2 separate regions of the Homo sapiens genome follow, and region 1 is linked to region 2. A link means that fine-mapping ties the variant in region 2 to the expression of a gene that starts in the linked region. Tissue or cell type: cerebral cortex. Region 2 holds a variant in brackets; the other region holds the start of a gene. All regions are shown on one strand. Distances are from middle to middle.

Evidence for each region. PIP is the estimated chance that this variant, and not a neighbour inherited with it, causes the effect. A credible set is the group of variants that fine-mapping cannot tell apart.
Region 1: it holds the start of AIG1, and the variant in region 2 is the best candidate, but not a certain one, in a credible set for the expression of AIG1 in cerebral cortex (GTEx, PIP 0.61).

What each region holds. Positions count from the first base shown.
Region 1 is chr6:143,057,991-143,063,371 of GRCh38, reverse strand. It overlaps AIG1 (androgen induced 1), which reads right to left and starts at 2,483. Exons shown (of 6, transcript NM_016108.4): 1 at 2,306-2,483. The coding sequence starts at 2,446. RefSeq lists enhancers at 1,944-1,993, 2,594-2,723, 2,549-3,487 and silencers at 2,184-2,253, 2,504-2,593.
Region 2 is chr6:143,338,199-143,343,579 of GRCh38, reverse strand. It overlaps AIG1 (androgen induced 1), which reads right to left. Exons shown (of 6, transcript NM_016108.4): 6 at 2,522-3,941. The coding sequence ends at 3,904. It also overlaps the pseudogene PARLP2. Among named protein-coding and RNA genes, the nearest start is that of ADAT2, 110 kb to the left of the region's middle. The variant T/C (reference allele first, on the strand shown) is at 2,331.

The sequences.
Region 1 (5,381 bases), 280 kb after region 2:
GAGCCACAGAGTAAAAAATTACAACGCTGGCTAAAGGTCCTATACAATCTGAAGCTAAATATGAAGCAAAGTAAATGTTTCACATTTGAATCTACTGTCTGACTTCTGGGATAGAAAAAGTCCTGTATGGTGATTAGTATTTAAAACAGGCAAGTCCAATCATTGAATGCTAAAAGATAAATTATATGACAGCATATCAAGCTGACTCTACTATGGTTTCATGTCACACAAAGGTTATGAGAGGTATATCATTTCTTCTGAGCCTTGTTTTTCAATGCACAGTAAGCAATGCTAATTATGAAAAGCAGGCATCTCTTGGGTTAACCAACACCCTCAATTTCTACCTCTGTTCACCTGCTGACCCCTGCCTTGCTCCCACAACACAGCATCTACTGCAAGAGTGATGCTGAGGGCTGTTTCTAGAACCTATGGCTCCCACAGCATCTCTGTATTCTTGCCCAGCACTGCTCTTTAGCAACATTCAAATAGGCCAGCTCTAAGTAAGATCTGACTTAGGAATGGGATAAGGCAGTGTCCCAAAAGGAGTTTTGCTCACATAGCCCCTCAAAGAATTCTGAAAATCTATGCACATATTTTTAAATAACATCTCAACATCCTTAACATAGTTAAGTGTAAACACTTGAAAAAGGGACATCTTTCTGGCGCTCTATGGGTGGTATGCTTGCTTCATATACATATGCATCAGAACCTCAGGGTTGCAGATTTAGCTCATTCAGTATACAGAAAATGTCTGCTACACAACATAATTGGCAAAGCCAATCCTCATTGACAAGCCAATCAACCCAATAAGACTTTCTGTCAAGGCAACTCCGACATTGTTGTTCAATCAAATATAAAGATAGCCCTGGTGACAACCATCTATCTTCTGGAAGCTAAAAGGAACAGACAGAAAAGCACACCTCAGAGTCTTGTCACGGGCTCCTCACTTGGATGAATGGGGAGAATGAAAGGAGAACTGGCAGGCATCACGCATGTTCAGAGGGAAATTAGTTTCAAGCAGAGTTGGAAGATGAGGATCTGAAAATTAAAACCCTTGCAACATTCTATACCCTGTGAAGTCTTGTGGGCCTAAGGGTATGTGCACAGTTTGGAGACTGCTGGGCAACAGAATTGAAATTCCACTCTGAAAGTATCTAATATAATGCAAATATAAGGTGTTATTTTTAAACCAAAAGCCTCTCTGCATTTCTTTGAGGCATCCTAAGCCTTTGGAAATTTTTAAAACAGGTATCATGTTCTCTTCATCAGAATGGAGGGTCAACAAGAGATTATAATCTTGCTGGTGTAGCCAACCAACTGTATAGTCTTGGATAAACAGTTCAGGGAGTCCCAGGAATTGGTTCTACAATTTCTCTGAGTGCTTTAGAACTTCATTGCTTTTGTTTTAAGCCTCTTCCTAATAATCTTTTAGCGTGTGTCTTAGTCACCTTTACCCTGAAATTCCTAGGTCCATCCATGAGTTCATTATTGGGCCTTATGCCCATGTTCTGTTCTCCAGGGAGGTTGAAGAGGGCCTTTTAGTGCCAGAAATAGAAAAACTTTCAAAATGATATACTAATAATAACCTGCACCTGTCAAGATTATCATATTGTGCCAACAGAGGAGCTGCTTATGCAAACTACTGTAAATTTGTACATGGGAAGACAGAGAAGTGTGTACAGTCACCTTGGAAATGCACTTTGAACATCTCTGTCTCCTAATATGTACGGGGTAAAGGTTGAAAGTAAATTATTGACAATGGGGGAAAAAAACAGATGCAAAGAAGACAACTTTATTAGGTGCTTTCTCTCCCTTATGAGAAGGATTTGGTTCTTTCAGGTGAAGTTCCAAATCACTAGACAATACCCAGTTTCCTTCAGTTGCAACAAGTTCATCCCACGGTGGGTGCTCTGAAAAGCACCTTGAGGGCGAATGGGTCTCAGGCCATTCAGGATCAGGTCCGATGCTTTTGTTGAAGATTCTTCCCGTGTCACCTCTTAGAAGCAGTTCGGTGTCCCCCTCCAAAGAGCCCACCACCTGGCTGCGCCCCACCTCCATTTGTCCCCCAGTTGCCAGGTAAGGGTACCCAGCTACCAGGTAACGGTGAGTGGTTCAGAAGGTGCCGCTGCGGGGGCAGCCAGGCCTTCACACGCAATCACTGGGGAAGAGGCGAGGACACGGGTGGATGCTGGAGGCGCGCACGTGCGCAGGTGCTCGCGCATCCACACACACACACACACACACACACACACACGCACACACAGGCACGGGGTGCGGGGCGAGCAGGGGGAGGGGACGGCCTTACCAGATCAATGAACGTCAGGAATTTCCAGCTCCCTCCGTAGGTCTGGTGTGAGGGCATTTCGATGGCCTTGTAGTTACACAGGATAGAGCAGTAAGACAGCAGGATTGCCATCCGCAGCACCTGGCAGGGGACAAGCGCCATGTTCGCCAGAGGCCTGGACCGGCTGGGCGGCAAGGAGGGCGGGCGTGAGGGAGGCGCCGGGCGCGCGGGGGCGGGCGCCGTGGGAACCCGGGCGCGGGCGCGGGCGCGGGGCGGGGCGGGGCGGGGGCGGGGGCGGGGGCGGGGCGCGCGCCCCCGGGGACTGGCGCGGCCGCGAGCGCCCGGGTGACCTGTACTGGCCGGGCGCGGTTTGCGGACGCTCTCCACTGCCGGCCGCGGCCTGGCAGGCGGCGTGTCGTCATCTCTTTCGTCACCTTCGTCATTCTGCTCCTGCGTTCGCAGGGTCCCGGGACACCCGGCCAGGAGGCGCCCCCTAGGCATCCCAGGTGTGGATGCGACCTCTGAGTGCTACGAGGGCTCGGGAAGTGCGCGCTGATCTCCAGGGGGAAGCGGGCCCTGTGGCTAGTGGGCGCCGGGCCGGGCGAGGGGGCGGGGAACCTAGACTGAAGGAGTGGACCCCAGTGTCCACAAATGTTCCCGCCCCGGAATCGCGGTGACGCTTCCTGGGGTAGTTGCAGTTGGCCGAGAGCTGGTGCCCCGTGCGGAGGGATCCGGTGGGGGTGTGAACGTGGGGTGTAAACCCGAGCACAGGCAGCCGCGAGTGACTTTCAGTATTTTGGGGCAATAAGGTTTTCAGTGTTGACAAACGACTGTCAATCACTAGGAAACTCTCTCAATTCTGCTTTCAATGGGTAGGCTACGCAGCACTTTTCCATGACAGATTGAATAATGTCATATCAGTATATAACATCAGCTAGAATATGAACTTTGGACAAGAGGTTTATAGATAAAAAGCTATAAAGAAAGGATTTTCAAATAACTTTCTGCCACAAGATTGCATTCAGCTTTAAAAAATTCCAATTTTGGATGTAAAACCCCTGCGTGTAATTTAATACTAATCATCTGGTTGTTAAACTGGTTTTGCCCTTACTTTTTTCTTACACTACACTACCAGGGCTTAATGGAAGGAAAATAAATATAAACTGGAGTCCCTCCTGCCTTCCAGTAAATGTTGTCACACTGAAGTTGCATCAGTCTGTGGGCAACATTTTCATTTCAGCCAACCAGTTGCAGGTTCGGATTATGAAAAGGCAACATAGGTATTTCCTGTGGATCCATTTAAAACAGGTGTCCTCTTCAAATAGTCTCTGAGTCAGAGGATGTGGAGGGAGGGCTGGTGGGGAGAAGCATAGTGCTAGAGGTAAAGAGAAAGTAGCAAGCAAGCCATGGATGTTTTCCTGAATGTTTCCAATCAAGCTCTAAACTAAAATGAAGAGACCCACTAGATTTTTTTAATTGGCATTATAATTATGCTAATAGAACTGATGTCAGAAGAAGATTCTACTAGCATTAAAACGATGTATTATTGATGATTTTTGGTTAAATCTTAATGTAAAAGTTGGCTTTATTTTTTTAATTGTGCATCCTTGGTACATGGTTATAAACTGCCAAAAAAATAAAAATAAAAAAGAGTAGATCTATTGAAGATCTACCTACCTTAATAATGTGTCTGGAATTGGTTCCTGCCGGTAGATTAGTGGTCTCAGTGACTTCAAGAATGAAGCGGCAGACCTTGGTGGTAAGTGTTACAGCTCTTAAAGATGGCACAGACCCAGAGTGAGCGATAGCAAGGTTTATTGTGAAGAGTGAAAGGACAAAGCTTCCACAGCATGAAAGGGGACTGGAGCGGGTTGCTGCTGCTGGCTGGGGTGGCCAGCTTTTATTCCCTTATTGTCCTCTCCAGTGTTCTGTTTCTGTCCTATGAGAGTGCCCTTTTTTCAGTCCTCCCTGCGATTGGCTACTTTTAAAATCTTGCTGATTGGTGCGTTTTACAGAGTGCTGATTAGTGTGTTTTACAGAGTGCTGATTGGTGCTTTTTACAGAGCGCTGATTGGTGCATTTTACACTCCTCTTGTAAGACAGGCAAGTTCCCCAAGTCCCCACTTGTCTCAGGAGGTCCAGCTGGCCTCACCTCTCAATAGAGCCTTAATAAAGTTTTATGAGTTAATGTGATATTTGCAAAGTTTGATATACCCTTCCTACTTTACATGTTAGACAATTATTAAGACTCCCCAACCCCATTGTTACAAAATGAAATAATATTTTCATAAAGCCATTTTTAATGGTCAGGTTTTTTGTTTTGTTTTTCTTTTTGTTTTTTTGTGAGACAGAGTCTAGCTCTGTCACCCAGGCGGAAGTGCAGTGGCATGATCTCAGCTCACTGCAACCTCTGCCTCCTGGGTTCAACTATTCTCCTGCCTCAGCCTCCCAAGTAGCTGGGACTACAGGCGCATGCCACCACACCTGGCTAATTTTTTTTGTATCTTTAGTAGAGATGGGGTTTCACCATGTTGGCCAGGTTGGTCTTGAACTCCTGACTTCAAATGATCCACCTGCCTCGGCCTCCCAAAGTGCTGGGATTACAGGTGTGAGTCACTGCGCCCGACCAGTTTCTTTTAAATAAATAACTATAACTCTTAATTAAGTATTTAGAACCTATTCTGCTGGGTTTGCTTTTGTTTTTTCATGATTTGCCAACCATGATCAGATAGTTTTGTGCTTTAAAAAAATGAAGCGTTTGTATAAAACTTGACTCAAATACTATTTTATGAGAATGTCAGTTCACAATTTTTGGAACTTCTTGATAACTATTAACATGTCCAGGCTTGCTTTCTGTGCTTTTCAGACCATATCTAACAATCTTAGTCATGTTTTACAGATAACTTTTGTGGAAAATATTAATCTACACACATTGTGTTTTTACAGCGTAAACAATTGCTTTTAAAACTTCATTAGGTAAGTTATTACTTTTTATGAACTATAATACATTATTCACTTCTAAGTATTCTTATGATGATTCCATATTTGATTTAGATAATACTGTTTTCTATGTATAGAAGAAATATTTGCATGTCTT
Region 2 (5,381 bases):
GTAAACCTTTACGTCACAACTATGTCATTTTCACTTTCTGAAAAGACACGGACCCGGGGACACAGCTGAAAACAGTGGGAGGCCAGATGCTGGCGTCTTCCAGGCGGGAACGTAGCCATGATCACTCTAGGGCCGATGTCTCCTGGGGCTCTCCGGCAGGACAAGACAGGTGCACCGGTACTGTGCAATCCCAGTTTTACTTAGAGCCACCTCTTGTTTGGGGGGGCATTAGTCCTCATTTCATGCCAGATTTTCACTAGAGGCTCCCTGTTCTTCCAAATCAGTTCATGAGGGTAAGTAACATACCATATTCCAAAGAGAGCTCCCCCAAGATGTGCTGCATAATCAAAAAATTTCCGTCCCAGGATCATTCCTGCCATATCCGTGGCGTTAATGGATTGTAGGGCATTTCCTGCTGTGAATGTGAACATTGGAAGTAAATAATGGCAAGCCTCCCTTCTGGGATCTTAGTGCGGACAGCTGCGAGGATCATCATGATGGCGCGAGATGCACCAAGTGATGGTCCATATCTTCGTGTGGCAACTTTACACACATAACTGACAAAATTGGAAATAACACCTGCAGATAGGTACACTGCCATGAACTGCTCTTGACCCAGAATGTTCACTATACTGAAGGAGAAGCTCCACAAAACATACATATTTGCTGCCATGTGAAATAAGGAGAAATGATTGAATGTTGACAGCAACATTGGAGAACAACGGACTTTTGAGGCTGGATTAGATTTGAAATATCAGATCACTGTCCACTGCAGAGAAGGTACTCTCCACAAACAGAATACAAGGACGTTTGCAGCTATGATACCTGAGTCCGCTGGCCATCACTTAGGTTATTCCACCGCTTGTTAATCTCCTTTCTGAAGTCTCCTTCTTTTTGTGGTCTTATGCTATCCAACCAATCAGCTTTTATGCCATCAAAATAACTCTGGACCCCTGGATTTCAGTGATTCGTATTGCCAAATAGCAGCTGATCCAAATGCACAGCCTGTAAACCCAACAGTAAAAAAATAAAGGTTTTATGAGAGTCCTTATAGGATAGGGAGAAAGATAAAAGACTGTTTCTTCCACCAGAGGAATCAAAGCACTTCTCTTGTATGCTTCACCACTTGTTGCCGTGTCTGATCTTCGAGGTTCAACCTTACTGGGTTCTTTTCTGAACCACATTTTTTTCTGAATAAAGAAGTTAAACCTGCGTCTAAGCAGCTGCGGCGGGGCTAGAACCGCAGTGAGCTCCTCGCAGCTGCTGCTGCGCACCAGGGGAGCCCACGCTGAGCCGCAGCCCCAGCCTCTCTGCGCCCAGCCTCGCCACCCCATTTTCCCACTACAAGAAAATTTTAGGACGGGCGCAATGGCTCACGCCTGTAATCCCAGTACTTTGAGAGGCCAAGGCGGGTGATCACCTAAGGTCGGGAGTTTGAGACCAGCCTGACCAACATGGAGAAACCCGTCTCTACGAAAAGTACAAAATTAGCAGGGCTTGGTGGTGCATGCCTGCAATCCCAGCTACTTGGGAGGTTGAGGCAGGAGAATCGTTTGAACCAGGGAGGCGGAGATTGCAGGGAGCTGAGATGGTGCCATTGCACTCCAGCCTGGGAAACAAGAGCAAAACTCCGTTTCAAAAACAAAAAAAAATTTTTTAGTACCTTCATTCGATATCCCAGGGATTATATTGTTTTACTCCAGCAAAAAGACTTCTGGAAACACTGCTATCAGTGGAGCCACCGCCTAAGTAAGCTTACAATAATTTATCATCCTCCAAAATTCATCCATCGTTTGTACACAGTTCGTATTAATTTGCTGTTACTGACATAGCAAAATGTCAGTCCACTGACTGGTGGCTTAAACAATATTAATTTATTTTCTCAAAGTTCTGGTGGCTAGAAGTCCAAGATCAAGGTGTCAGCAGGTTTGGTTCCTCTGAGTCCTCTCTCCTTGGCTTGCAGTTGGCAACCTTCTTCCCATGCCCTCACATGGTCTTTCCTCTGTGTATGTACATTCCTGGTGTCCCTTTGTGTGTCCTAATTCCCCCTTTTTACAAAGATACTACTCAGATTGGATTAGGGCCCATTTTAATGGCCTCATTTTAACTTAATCCCCTCTTTAAAGGCCCTGTCTCCAAAAACAGTCATATTCTAAGGCACTAGGGGTTACGGGTTCAACATATAAATTTTAGGGGGACACAGTGCCACAATGTAACCCATAATAGAGGTCAGACAGGTAAGATACATGTAGTTGTGATGGAAACCAACTCTGGATCCTTCAAGTCTTTGATCCTGTACTAACTGCAGCAGTCATTCCAAGGATGTGGTA[T/C]TGCTGTGCTTTTCTGTTTTGGTGGATTTCTGCTTGACTTTCCTACTTAAAAGTCCCAGCTCCATGAGTTAGGAAACTAATATGGTAATGCTGCTAGATGCATTCTATATTTCTATCAATTTTGCTTTCAGAAATGGGGGGCATATAGAGTGAATGTGTGTGGGAGAAAGAGAGAGACAGAGAGACGGAAGGAAGAGAGATTTTTAGCATTTAATTACATTTAAATGTAACTAATTTTAAATTAACTTTTTGAGTTTAAATTTTTTTCAAATTAAAAAGTTTAATGCTTTTCATTTTTTAATTTTAAAATGTAATTATAATTTTGGAGTGAATGGTTTTATATCATTTGTTGATCTCTCTCAACATTGGGCAATCAATACTTATATTTGTGTTAAGTAACATTTTATAATTTATATAACATATTTTTCATCTTAAAAATAATTACGGTCAAAGATTTTGTAAAATAGTTTTTTTAAAAACAATTTTGTGGCTGGGCGCGGTGGTTCATGTCTGTAATCCCAGCACTTTGGGAGGCCGAGGCGTGTGGATCACAAGGTCAGGAGATCGAGACCATCCTGGCTAACAAGGTGAAACCCCGTCTCTACTAAAAATACAAAAAATAAGCCGGGCGTGTGGCAGGCGCCTGTAGTCCCAGCTACTCGGGAGGCTGAGAAGGCAGGAGAATGGCATGAACCCGGGAAGCGGAGCTTGCCGTGAGCTGAGATCACGCCACTGTACTCCAGCCTGGGCGACAGAGTGAGACTCCATCTGGAAAAAAAGAAAAAAAAAATTTGTTTTGGAGTTATCAAAAAGATTCACATTTTTTAAAATCCAAAAATTATAGGAAAGAACCAGGTTCAGTAAACCCATTTTCAACAGGTAATAAAAATGAAAAGGAGATACTAATGCTGTTAGGATTTTGAGATGCACAATGCAGACGTCAGGTTCAGGGTGGCTTTGTCTTTATTAGTCAGCATTTGCATCTAGGAAAAGTTTCACATGATTAAATCAAGAGATGCAATACACTCAGGCTTTTCATGAAATTGACATCATTATTACAAATGGTGCTCATTTGAGGCAACTGTGACATTATGCAATGAGAAACATCTGTCCCCTTCCCTCTCAGGTCCCCATGGTGGCCTAGGTTCATGATTACAGCCACCTTTAGGATTAAATACACAAAAGCCTTACTCTATATATGCCCCTTTGACTTTAACATATTTCTCAAAAAGAAGTGCAATAAACTTTTATTCTTTCTTGATTAGATGGAGTTACAATTGCCAAAATAAAAATCCAAGGTCCAATTCTGGTTTTAAAACTAGAAAAGGAAAAAATGTTATTATCAGTAATGACTTTGGGAAGAATTCTTTAACACACAGTGAGGGTGAGTTCTTTTGGAAACAACTGTATTCTATGTTTATACATATTTATATATAAAAGGTGTCCTCATTGGGGGAGGGGGGTGCTGATGCCACCAAGTTCCTTTGAAGCCTTTTCTCCCCCACTGCCAATGCCCGAGGGGAAGGAGTCTTCAATGGCGGCTCAATCTAGCTCTTGCGTTTAGACTTGGATCTCATTCCAATTTAGGCTTTTCTTTCTCTTCTTCCATACCTAGAAATACAGGCAAAGTGTTTTATTTGAGCATCAGATTAAACCACAAGCAGTTTGTTTAATCTGGCTTGCTAACACTACTCACACATCCACTCATCTGCCCTCACTTCTCCCATTCACCCTCCTGACACACCCCCTATTCCCTCCTAGCTAAGAAGGAAAGCCATGCACAACTTTCTCCAGAAACATCCTCAGTGACCTCTCTTCCCCACCCTTTCCACAGAATCAGGACACAGCATCTCTGGGACACACCCAGCTCCTATGGCCTCTGGGAGACAAGGCTTCAAGTTGATTCATGACTTGCTGAGTTTGCATGGAAATCCCAGCTAGACTGCTTTTTAAACCAGCTTCTGGCAACATGAGGTGTGCAACTCATGAGTTTCAAACAGACTTCATTTATTTTTACTTTAGTCCTGTCTCTTCCTAAGGCAAGGACTTTGGATTTTAAAAAGCCATGCTTTTTTTTTTCTTGTTTTCTTTTTAAAGTTCATAGAGAGTTTATTAGCCATAAGAGCTGTTTATTTCCATACTCATGAATCTTAAACTGCAATTCTCTCTCTATTCAACCCAATCCTGGTAGAATCATGTTTTTCTTCCTGAAGGACTTGTATGTACTGGACCAGTAAGAACCTTTGCCTGTTGTCTGTAGAGAATAGTCGATGATGTTTCATGTTCCTGAAGATGAAAATGTTCATCATTTTTAGGAATTATAGTTAAATCTGGCAAGTGCTTCTTGCTTTTTTCTTTTTCTTGTACCTAAACATTTTTTGAATCATACCAAATTCTCAGTTTCTTTGTTTCAATAGCAAAAATGAAACAAAATAACTTAAAATACCACTTTGCAGGTTTTGTTAGTATTCTTTCATAAATTGCAAGCTTTCTGAGGGTAGGGCCCTTCCCTATTTTGTTCCCCAGCACCTAACATAGTGTGTGTGTCTCATTGCAGGAGCTCAATTAATCTTTGCTGAATAAAATTAATAAGCAATGAACACAGAGAAGACCTCAGAAGCCTGGACTAGTGGAAAGCAGAACAAAATATGGGACTCCACAATATGAAAATTATAAAATTTAACCCCAGAGGGTCATAATGTTAGGGCTTACAATAGGAAGGACTCCCCCACCACATAACCCCAGCTCCTGGTATATGTTTTGTGCTGTCAGAGTAGTGGTGGTGGAATGTGGGTAACGTGCTCTGAATGAATGTCCCCAGATGATCTTTTATGTTTGGTTTTCATGGCTAAGGAACTGGCAGAGATCTGGAGCACTTTTTCCAAAGTCCTTCTCAGAAATCCTATGAAGGAAAACTTCAAATTGAGGAGTAAGGACATCTGACGGGAGGAGGAACAGGTTTGAAGGCAAGAAGGTACAACACGCCTTCGTTGTTGGGTAACCACGGAAAGAAGAAAACAGCACAGATTCAGCTCAAACAGCACATGTGTC